Homo sapiens: one gene and its partners. The protein of the gene in region 3 purifies or fractionates together with the protein of the main gene of each other region. This does not show direct contact. Each region holds a gene or a part of one and is shown on either strand. Other genes may lie near its edges.

Region 1 (3,655 bases), on a different chromosome or scaffold from region 3:
ATGAAGTCTTAATGCTAACCTGAATACTCTACTTGGAAATGGAGATTTGTGATAAATCTATATTTTAATTTCATTGTTTCCCAAAATTAAAATGCAACTAAAAGCCTGTTCTGGATGTACATTATCTGCCATTAGAAATAACTATTTTATCATACAAATGAAATTTTTGTAAATGTTTACTAACAAAAAATCAAAGAACAGCAAAAAGTTTTTCTGGACTCATTTATTCAATACTTCTACACATAACAAAGAGTAGGAAAGGAAAGGAAGAAAACTATTTCATTCACATCATTAGCAAATGAAAAGCTTGCATGGAAATAAACATCCCCAAACACCACAGCATTTCGCAAATGAACTACTAAAATTCAACATACTAAAGAAGCTCCACCATTTATTTCCCACACACTACACAGTTCCAAGTCAAAAGCTTTATTGAGAGGCAATATAATCCAAGCAAATACAATTTTAAAAAGCTTACATTAGATGATACATTCATCCTTCACTTTGAGAAAATATGCTACATGATTATTCAGAAACCAAATAATGAGAAAGTCCAAACGACCAGATTCCAACGTTGCTATGCAGGTCTCCACAAATACTAAAAACACAGCAGTTTGGAATGTATCTATTACCAGTTCAGATCTGCTCCTCCCCACTAATATGACTTCAGACAAGTCTCTTTCTTTCTGGTTTCATTTTTCTTACCTACGAATAGTAAGGAAACTGAGCACAAGTTCTAAACAGTTACACAAATGGCTAACGACAATTTAAATGTCCAACTGCATGTAATCAAAAAGACAACACATTAATACAGAAATTATATACTAGATCCCAATAAAAAAATTACTGTGCTTCTGTGATAACAGATACTCGTAACGATGGCATTAAAGAAATGCAAGATCCTAACCACACTTCTGGAATATCCATGAAAGAGCAATTATTGTCTGTTTTGTAAGATTATTATATTTTAATTTTCTAACATCTGTATGGTCTACAAGGTTATTCAGTTAAGCAAAATATTCAAAAGAGTACCACATAACATTAAAAATCCATCCTATTAAAAATGAGGTTATAGACATACCAGTCAAAAAATGGGTGCCTAAAACTTTCAATGCAAAAATGGAAGAAGCTAATATGTCAAAAGTGGCCCTCTGAAAAGGTAACATTTATAATTTACAACACTGTTGACTTTTCAAGCATTTGTGAAGGCTTATTGAGCAAAAAAGAGTATCAGTAAATTGATGACTTTCTAAAGTAAAATTATATAAAGAACTTTCAGTAGGATTTTCACTCACAAATATGGAAAAAGGACAACAGAGGTTGGTGGGAGAAGGAATCAAACATTCCAAATGAAAACTAAACCTTTTTGGTGTCAGTTTGGGGAGAATTGAGAAAAGTGAGGAAGGTGGGATGAAATTATCTAACCACTTTTCTCATATTACCCAACACAGGACATGCACGTGGCAGCCAATTACCTGATGCTATTAGGTGAGCCTTCACTTTTCAGATATGGTTGGAAAGTAGGATCCAATCCCTGGAGTACTGAGAGCCATGACTGAATTTTTTTTTTCTCTATAGCTGGTAAAACATATTGGAAAAAGAATGGATTAGGTCTGTACACTTTGTGTCAACTATGACCATACTTAACATGTATTCTAATTCATTAACTTCTTCAGGGGAAGTAATTTTACAAGTTTCCATGAAACTCAGCTATTTATCACCAGTAAGCATTAGTCCCCTCATTAATTACCCTATTGTGTATGACACTAAACTTAAGACTCAGACAAGTCAATTAAAAAATGAGGGTCAACATTTCTTTGAAGTGTCTTGATATTTTTCTTTTTTAAATGAATACATTATTATCCTGTTTTTCTCTAAAATTACTGTTAAGAGAAACAAAGTTCATAATACTTTCAAAATTTAATTTGCTTAAATATAAAACTATAGTCCATCTCAATAAGAAACCTCCAACAATGAATATAACTTTAAGCCTATCTTTCATGTTAATTGAGTGCATATTTCATCAACTTTAAGACACTGATTTTATATCACTAAGATAAAAAGACTGCCAAATAATTGTAAAATGCCACAGAGTATTAGCCTAAATTTTTCAGAAATCCTTATTACCTCCCCTTCCACTCAATCCTATCACTTCTTATGTGCAGTACACCATTCATCTGACATTCAACCATTAACTCTCTGGTGCTACTTTGCTTTCAGCTAAAGTGTATATGCTCATTCTCTAGTTCCATTGCTCTTTAACAGATATTTGTCTTTATCTTCTAAAGCAATCAGCAGAATTCACTTATTAGAAACTACTGAGGAATGGGGGAATCTAAACAATTGAATGTTTCTGTGTAATAATAATTATATATGTATATACACAGGACATAAATGGATACTCTACTGAATAAAACAGTATTTATTTCATGTTTATGAAATCATTCATGCCTCATGTAAGCTTTATTGAAATATTCTGTAAGATATAAAACTTTAATTTAAAAAACCCTGAGTATTAATTATTTTTGAAGAACACTAGTGAATATTAATGAAAAATGATCTTAAGTATACAAACCATTGCTTAAATAACAAGCACTTTGGGAAGAATGTTAATAAGTGCTATCAAAGTGTATTCTAAAATAGAATTTAATAGTTCCAAATATACATATAGTAATAAAAACCTAAGTTAAAAGAGGCCTGCATTCAGGACAAAATTTATAAACCAACTTATGCCTAGAAAACAATATATTCAATTGATAATTACTAAGTGTAGACCAAGATGCAATACAATTTCATATATGATGGGAGATCAAACAGGCATGAAATATTCTACTGCAACTTCCAACCACTTGAGTGGTCCAGATATTTCCATACATTCACGTTAGGACATTTTAGAATGTGTCCACACTGCCACAATCAGGAGAATAGAGTGTACTCAACCTAACTACCAAACGTACTTATTTTATAAAATAAGCAGTCACCAAAGTATGACAGCTAAATTTCCCCCAAAATTGCCAATAAGCATTAATTTTTTTCTTGGTCATGCTACATTATATGCCTAAAGACACATTATTATCCCTACTGAAGTATTATCCATTTCTTATCTCCATAAACATTGTGCTAATAATTTTTAAATGTTATGTGAAGCCTTTCAGGTTTTCAGAAAACAATGGGCACTAATTTATAAAACTCATTTCTGATTAAGACTTTAAAAATTATAATCCCAAATATTTTTATGACCCTACATTTTTAATTACACTTGATACATTTGAATGAAGAGTTCAGAGCATCAACTGCTGATAAAATTGTTTAAAAAGAATCTCAATTTTCCAATTCATCAAAACACTAAATACATCCTATGTGGCTCAACGTAGTTCCAAAGCTGTAATATGTATGCTGCTTACAGTGACTGTGTAGGTTATATATAAACCTTCTGAGCATTAAAAAAGAATTTATGTTTAAAAGAATAATTTTATCTAGTTAAACTTATTAATTGTGACATTATGAAGAGAGCCACTTAAGACTCTCCTTTTTCATTGCCACTATAGCTCGCTAATTCCTCTTTTATTCTCTTCCCCCTTAACGTACCCTCACATTAAAAAACAAAAACAAAAACAAAAACAAAAAACTGGGTTATAACCACATCTTGGGATGG
Region 2 (3,655 bases), on a different chromosome or scaffold from region 3:
CTTTATCTTGTTTTTAAGAAACTCAGACTTTATTTGGAGAGATTAGGCTAATGTGAACTAACCGTCAGTAATTCAAGTATACAATTAGTGTTAAATTGTGTAATTCAACTTTTCAGTGTGGCATACCTATTGAAAATTATTTGTTATAAGCCTTTGTTTGTGTAAACAGTGATTTACTGAAGAAAATGGAAATGCTGGAATTTTGAAATGTTAAGGACATTTTAGTTTGAGACGTTGAAGTGTTGGTGCCCTGAGTCATAAGCATGACATGAAGAGGCACGGGCTCCTTCCTCATTGTGAATTCCTTTCTCTTGTGCTCAGGAGTTCAGGGTTGCTGCTATGAAAATATGCTTCAGTCATGATTTTGTCAGCATACTGTTATACATCTGATCATCTTTAGTTATGAAGATTTAAATCTCTTGTGTTCTAATAATTCCAGGTTTGATAACTGATCTGTCTTGTTTATTATGTTTAGCTAATTGAAATTTATGGTCATTAGATCTGGTACTAGAGCTGTTAACATATTTGCTTGCTACATATGTAAACTGGATCCTACTTTTTTTTTTTTTTTTTTACAAGGGGTACATTAAGTTATTAGGAAATTTTAGTATTTTATTGATTTTTCACTAAATTTCAGCATTTGTTCCAAGGTGACTAAAAATAAAAGAAGAAACTGTATACTAGCATCTGCAGTGCATTCCTAGCAGCTGAACTAGTTGTTTTTGTCTTCATAAAAATAAGATCGTAAGTTTTACAAAGGGCCAACTATTCAAATTAAGGATTGTCATTTCAGTGGTGCAGTAGGGTTCCATTTATGATTTAATTCTTGAAATATATTTCAAATTAAATAAGATTTTACTACATTGAATAGAAATTTGATGAAATACTGCCTGTAAACAGAGTCTTACTTTCCAACAGATTATAAAACCTTTTATCTTATTTTGCTTTGCTTGCATATCTCCTTGAAGGAGAGTTGGTTCTGACTTCTACATTTTGTCTTAATAAATATTCAAGAAAATATTCTTTCTTGACAGTAGGATATGTTATTTTTAAAATCACTGATCTGGTAAAATTTGAGGAGAAAAATCTGAAAATTAAATTTCAAGCCTTACCATTAAATCATAAGATGTGAGATTTTATGTTATTTAAAAAAAATTTAGTATTTGGAGCAACATTACCAGAGCTGAATGATTAAAGCACATGAAAAAGGCAGACAGATGGTTGGTTGAAATGTTCTTTTTTGCTGCATGAAAAGTTATAAATGCTCATAGAATGACAAATGTATTACAGTGAAATAATTTGACAGTATTTCACTTGTGTATATAAATGAACTACTGACAAAAACAAATTGCCTGCAGTCCAAATTCAAAATTTAAAATGAAGAGCTTAAAGTAGAATAATCAAGAAGGAAATGATTTTCCTCTATTTCATATTATTATGAATAACGTTGGTTCGTGTATTTAGAGAAGGCTTATTTAGCCTATCAGCTGGAAAGACTTAATAGATCTACAAAAGTGAACAGTTTATAGCCAATATCTGTTTATTGATGGACTGATTATTTATATTGCTGATAGGAACCAGCCTAATTAGAAGTCCACTGTCTTTAATTCAGCTGAGTGAGTTGGCATGGTAGCTGGACAAATGAGAGAAGAATGAATAAGGCCCTGTCTCAGTTTGTTTTATGCTGCTATAACAAAAAACCTGAGACTGGGTAATTTCTAAAGAATATAATTTTATTTCTCACATTTTTGGAGGCCAGGAAGTCCAAGATTGAGTCACAGGCAGGTTTAGTTTCCTGGTGAGGGCTGCTCTTTGCTTCTAAGATGGTCTGTTGTTGCCGCATCCTCTGGAGGGGAGTAATGCTGTGTCCTTACTGGGCAGAAGGTGGAAGGGCAAGAGAATGGAAGACTGTGAAGCCTCTTTTGCAAGGGCCTTAATCTCATTCATGAAGGGAGGAGCCCTCATGACTAAATCTTAAAGGCCCCACCTCTTAATGCTATCATATTGGCCATTAAGTTTGAACATCTGAATTTTGGAGAGGACACATTGAAACCATAGTAGGGTGGTTCCAAAATCATAGGTTGGCAGAGCTAGGCATCACCCAACTTTATTCTTGGAATGGGTTTTCTGCAAGTTTTTAAAGCCTAGGTTGAGAATGTGGTCAAGAAGGATGTGGGGGAAATTAATTAGTAAAATATGAGGGCAGAGAGATAAGGGGCAGAGTGGAAGGCGGAGACCTGATTGTGTAGGGCCTTGTAAAATCATTGTTAAGGTCTTTGATTTTACTCTGAGTGAGAAGGGATGCCATTTGGAGAGTTTTGAGCAGAGGGGTGAAATGATTGTTTACCCTTTAAAGGGACATTTTGCCTCTTGAACTAGGAGTGGACTGCAGATTTGAGGCAAGGACCAGCAAGGAGACTATTACAGTAATTCAGGCAAGAGAAGGTGATCCGATTGGTGGTAGTGGAGAGAAGTGGGTGAGTTATGGATATATTTGAAAGGTAGAGCCAATGAGATTTGCTGATAGTTTGGATGTGATATGTGTGTGGGAGAAAAGATATCAAGGGTGGATACAAAGTTTTTTGCCTACACAGCTCGAAGTTTGGAATAGCTGTCAACTAAAATGAAGAATATTGTGCAAAGAGGAATTTTTTTTTAAAGGGGGAAAGGGACCAAGAGCTTGTGCATGTTAAGTTTGAGATGCGATTAGGCATCCATGTGGAGATACTAAATAGGCAGTTGGATATCAGAGTGTGGAGCTTAGAGGAGGAGTCAGGCTAGAAGTATAAATTTGGGAGTCATCAGGTATCATGGGATTGGATGAGACACTGAGGAAGTGAGTGTAGAAAAAGGTCAGAGTCAGTCAGTCCTGGGACATTCCTGGAGTAATTGTGTCAAATAATACAAATAGGTCAAGTAAGATGATTACTGAGAAGGGAGTTTTGGATTTGTCACTGGGTGGACTTTGGTGACCGTGACAAGCAGTTTAGGTGCACTGGTGGGGCTGAAAGCCTCATGAGTGGGCTCAAGAGAGAAGGAAGAAGAAGAATTGTGGTTAGTATTTTTTTTTTTTTTTGAGACAGAGTCTTGCTCTGTCGCCCAGGCTGGAGTGCAGTGGCGTGATCTCGACTCACTGCAAGCTCCGCCTCCCGGGTTCACGCCATTCTCCTGCCTCAGCCTCCCGAGTAGCTGGGACTACAGGCGCCCTCCACCACGCCCAGCTAATTTTTTTTGTATTTTTAGTAGAGACGGGGTTTCACCGTGTTAGCCGGGATGGTCTCCATCTCCTGACCTCATGATCTGCCCACCTCGGCCTCCCAAAATGCTGGGATTTACAGGCGTGGGCCACCGCGCCTGGCCATTAGTATATTTTTAAGTATAGAAGAGCAGAGAAATGGAGCAGCACTTGGAGAGGAATGTTATGTCAAGGAATTTTTCCTTAAGGTAGGAGAAACTGTATTATCTTGTTTGCTGATGGAACCAACTGATGTAGAGGAGAGAAAATAGATGATGCATTAGAGAGAAGGAAAATTGCTGGAGAATTGCTGATATCCCCTTTTTCTTCTAGAAAACTTACAGATACAGGTTAGCTGAAAAATAACAACCCTAATTTCAATATCCAGAAGAAATCGGTTAATGTAGTATATATCTTTTA
Region 3 (3,655 bases):
TCAGCCTCCTGAGTAGCTGGGATCACAGGTGCACACCACCACGCTCACCTAATTTTTGTATTTTTAGTAGAGACGGTGTTTCACCGTGTTGGCCAGGCTGGTCCTGAGCTCCTGACCTCAGGTGATCTGCTTGCCTCGGCCTCTCTAAGTGCTGGAATTACAGATGTGAGCCACCACACCCAGCTAGTTTTTTTTTTTTTTTTTTTTTTTTTTGAGACAGAGTTTCACTTTGTTGCCCAGGCTGGAGTGCAATGGCACGATCTCAGCTCATCTCAACCTCTGCCTCCTGGGTTTAAGGGATTCTCCTGCCTCAGCCTCCTGAGTGGCTAGGATTGATTACAGGCATGCGCCACCACGCCTGGCTAATTTTGTTTTTTCGTAGAGACAGGGTTTCTCCATGTTGGCCAGGCTGGTCTCGAACTCCTGACCTTAGGTGATCTGCCTGCCTCGGCCTCTCAAAGTGCTGGGATTACAGGCATGAGCCACTGTGCCCAGCTAGGTTTTTTTTTTTTTTTTTTTACCTGTTTAGTCATGTCTTAAATAAACAGTAAGTGAGAACTTAACGACCTTCAGCCTTAGTGCCAACTCGTCTGTCTGCATGGTCTCATACAGTGCAAAGAGGATGGGGTTCGGGAGTCAGTCTGATCTGCCTTGTTCACTGGTTCCTCAGCCTCTCTGAGATCAGTGTTTTCATCTGTAAAATGAGGATGAACACTTACCTTATATTATTTTTTGAGCATTGAAGGAGATTGTACATGTAGATAAGTAGCACACGCTCATCGAGAAAAGTTTCCATTTTTCCTATCTTTCCCTCTGTCATCTGCCCAACTTCTTTTTTTTTTTTTTTTTTTTTGAGACGGAGTTTCGCTCTTGTTGCCAAGGCTGGAATGCAATGGTTGATCTCGGCTCACCGCAACTTCTGCCTCCCAGGTTCAAGCTATTTTCCTGCCTCAGCCTCCTGAGTAGCTGGGATTACAGGCGCCTGCCACCACTGCCCGGCTAATTTTGTATTTTTAGTAGAGATGGTGTTGCTCCATGTTGGTCAGGCTGGTCTCAAACTCCTGACCTCAGGTGATCCACTGGCCTCAGCCTCCCAAAGTGCTGGGATTACAGGCATGAACAACCGCGCCCGGCCATCCTCTGCCTAACTTCTTTCTTTATGCCTGGGTCTTGGCTGTCTTCTCAAAGGAAGGAAGCCATCCTAGTCCCACTTCCTTGCGTATTGATTTATTTGTACTATTGGACACATCAGAAAACTGTTTCTCCTCTGTCTCACGGCATCTTTCTGCTGATCCTCCAGCTTCCAGGATTCAGCTCCAAATTCACTTCCAGAAAGCCTTTCTTGATTAACCCAACTCAGCATAACTATTCTTTTGGTTTTTATCTGCTTACATTTAAATATTTCATGTTTCATTAATTAGAATATACGGTTTTGTCATTATGAGACAGGTTTACCATTAATTTAAAAATATTTTCCTTTTTAATTTTTAGAATCTGATGTTCCAGCAGAAATCCAGGTGTTAAAAGAACCCCTACAACAGCCAACCTTCCCTTTTGCAGTTGCAAACCAACTCTTGCTGGTTTCTTTGCTGGAGCACTTGAGCCACGTGCATGAACCAAACCCACTTCGTTCAAGACAGGTGTTTAAGCGTAAGTAAGAATAAATGAATCTTGCTAAATAAAGCTTGTAAAGGCTGGGCTCCGTGGTTCATGCCTGTAATCCCAGCACTTTGGGAGGCTGAGGTGGGCGGATCACCCGAGGTCCGGAGATCGAGATCGGTTTGGCTAACATGACGAAACCCCCTCTTTACTCAAAATATGGAAATTAGCCGGGTGTTGTGGCAGGCACCTGTAACCCCAGCTACTCGGGAGGCTGAGGCGGAGAATCAGTTGAACTGGGGAGGTGGAGGTTGCAGTGAGCCGAGATAGCGCCACTGCACTCCAGCCTGGGTGAAAGAGTGAGACTGTCTCAAAAATAAATAAATAAAGCTTGTAAAAATACTGTGTTGCTGTTCTCACTTATTCATGGGAGGTAAAAATTAAAACAATTGAACTAATGGAGATAGAGTAGAATGATGGTTCCCAGAGGCTGGGAGGATAGTGGAGGATGGTTAATGGGTACAAAAATATAGTTAGAATAAATTGGATCTAGTATTTGATAGCACAGCAGAGTGACTACAGTCAACAATAATTTATTGTACATTTAAAAAATAATAAAAAAGATGGCCAGGTGCAGTGGCTCATGCCTGTAATCCCAGCACTTTGGGAGGCCAAGGTGGGTGAATCACTTGAGGTCAGGAGTTTGAGACCAGCCTGACCAACATGGTGAAATCCCATCTCTATTAAAAAAAAAATGCAAAACTACCCAGGCGTAATGGCACATGGCTGTAATCTCAGCTACTTGGGAGGCTGAGGTAGGAGAATTGCTTGAACCCGGGTGGCGGAGGTTGCAGTGAGCCGAGATCACGCCACTGCACTCCAGCCTGGGCAACAAGAGCTAAAGTCCATCTCAAAAAAAAAAAAAAAAAGAATGGGCTGGGCGCGGTGGCTCACGCCTGTAATCCCAGCACTTTGGGAGACTGAGGCAGGTGGATCATGAGGTCAAGAGATCGAGACCATCCTGGCTAACATGGTGAAACCCTGTCTCTACTAAAAATACAAAAATTAGCTGGGCATGGTGGCGGGCACCTGTAATCCCAGCTGTAATTTGGGAGGCTGAGGCTGGAAAATCATTTGAACCTGGGAGGCGGAGGTTGCAGTGAGCTGAGATCGCGCCATTGCACACCAGCCTGGCGACAGAGCAAGACTCAGTCTCAACAAAATAAAAATAACGAAAAGAATATAATTGGATTGTTTGTAACACAAAGAAGGGATAAATGCTTTAGATGATGGATACCCCATTTATCCTGATGTGATTATTACACATCACATGTCTGTATCAAAATATCTCATGTACCCCCATAAATATATACATCTACCATATACTCACAAAAATTAAAAATACAAAATAAAAATATGTTGTTTAATGCTGTGAGTCTGGAAAGCGTCTGGTATACAAAAATTGGAGTGAAATAAATATTAATGATTTCCCTACTTCAATTCAGCTTACATTTTTCTTTGAGTAATTCCTTACAAATATAACTGTGGATCCCATAATTGCATAAAATTGAATAAATGAAATATAGTTCTTTTGCATCTATACTATGATAATGCTCACAATTTTTTTTTTTCTCGAGATGGAGTCTCACTCTGTTGCCCAGGCTGGAGTGCATTGGCGCGATTTCCGCTCACTGCAATCTCCGCCCCCCGGGTTCAAGTGATTCTCCTGCCTCACCCTCCCGAGTAGCTGGGGTAGGCACGTGCCACCATGCCCGGGTAATTTTTGTATTTTTAATAGAGACGGGGTTTCACCATGTTGTTCAGGCTGGTCTCGAACTCCTGACCTGGTGATCCACCCGCCTCGGCCTTCAGTGTGCTTTGATCACTCCTGTGAGTAACCAGTGTGCTCCAGTCTGGGTGACATAGTAAGACTCTGCCTCTAGAGAAAAAAAAAAAAAAGAATAGTTCCAGCCAGAGATTCTGAGGTTCTTTTTTTTTTTTTTTTTTTTTTTACCAAAACAGTCTCAAACTTATAGATACTTTTATGTGGTCTTAA

What was found.
Region 1: the proteins of EIF2AK1 (region 3) and NAF1 purify together in Homo sapiens (affinity purification with mass spectrometry, with the first as the bait; one large-scale study listed by BioGRID). This does not show direct contact.
Region 2: the proteins of EIF2AK1 (region 3) and AP3B1 purify together in Homo sapiens (affinity purification with mass spectrometry, with the first as the bait; one large-scale study listed by BioGRID). This does not show direct contact.

Annotation. Positions count from the first base shown.
Region 1 is NC_000004.12:163,156,750-163,160,404, forward strand, and holds part of NAF1 (H/ACA ribonucleoprotein complex non-core subunit NAF1), read right to left. Parts: intron 1,579-3,655; exon of another isoform or gene 1,476-1,578; intron 1-1,475. UniProt on the Homo sapiens protein: RNA-binding protein required for the maturation of box H/ACA snoRNPs complex and ribosome biogenesis.
Region 2 is NC_000005.10:78,284,670-78,288,324, reverse strand, and holds part of AP3B1 (AP-3 complex subunit beta-1), read left to right. Parts: intron 1-3,655. UniProt on the Homo sapiens protein: Subunit of non-clathrin- and clathrin-associated adaptor protein complex 3 (AP-3) that plays a role in protein sorting in the late-Golgi/trans-Golgi network (TGN) and/or endosomes.
Region 3 is NC_000007.14:6,052,541-6,056,195, reverse strand, and holds part of EIF2AK1 (eukaryotic translation initiation factor 2-alpha kinase 1), read left to right. Parts: intron 1-1,491; coding exon 1,492-1,650; intron 1,651-3,655. UniProt on the Homo sapiens protein: Metabolic-stress sensing protein kinase that phosphorylates the alpha subunit of eukaryotic translation initiation factor 2 (EIF2S1/eIF-2-alpha) in response to various stress conditions.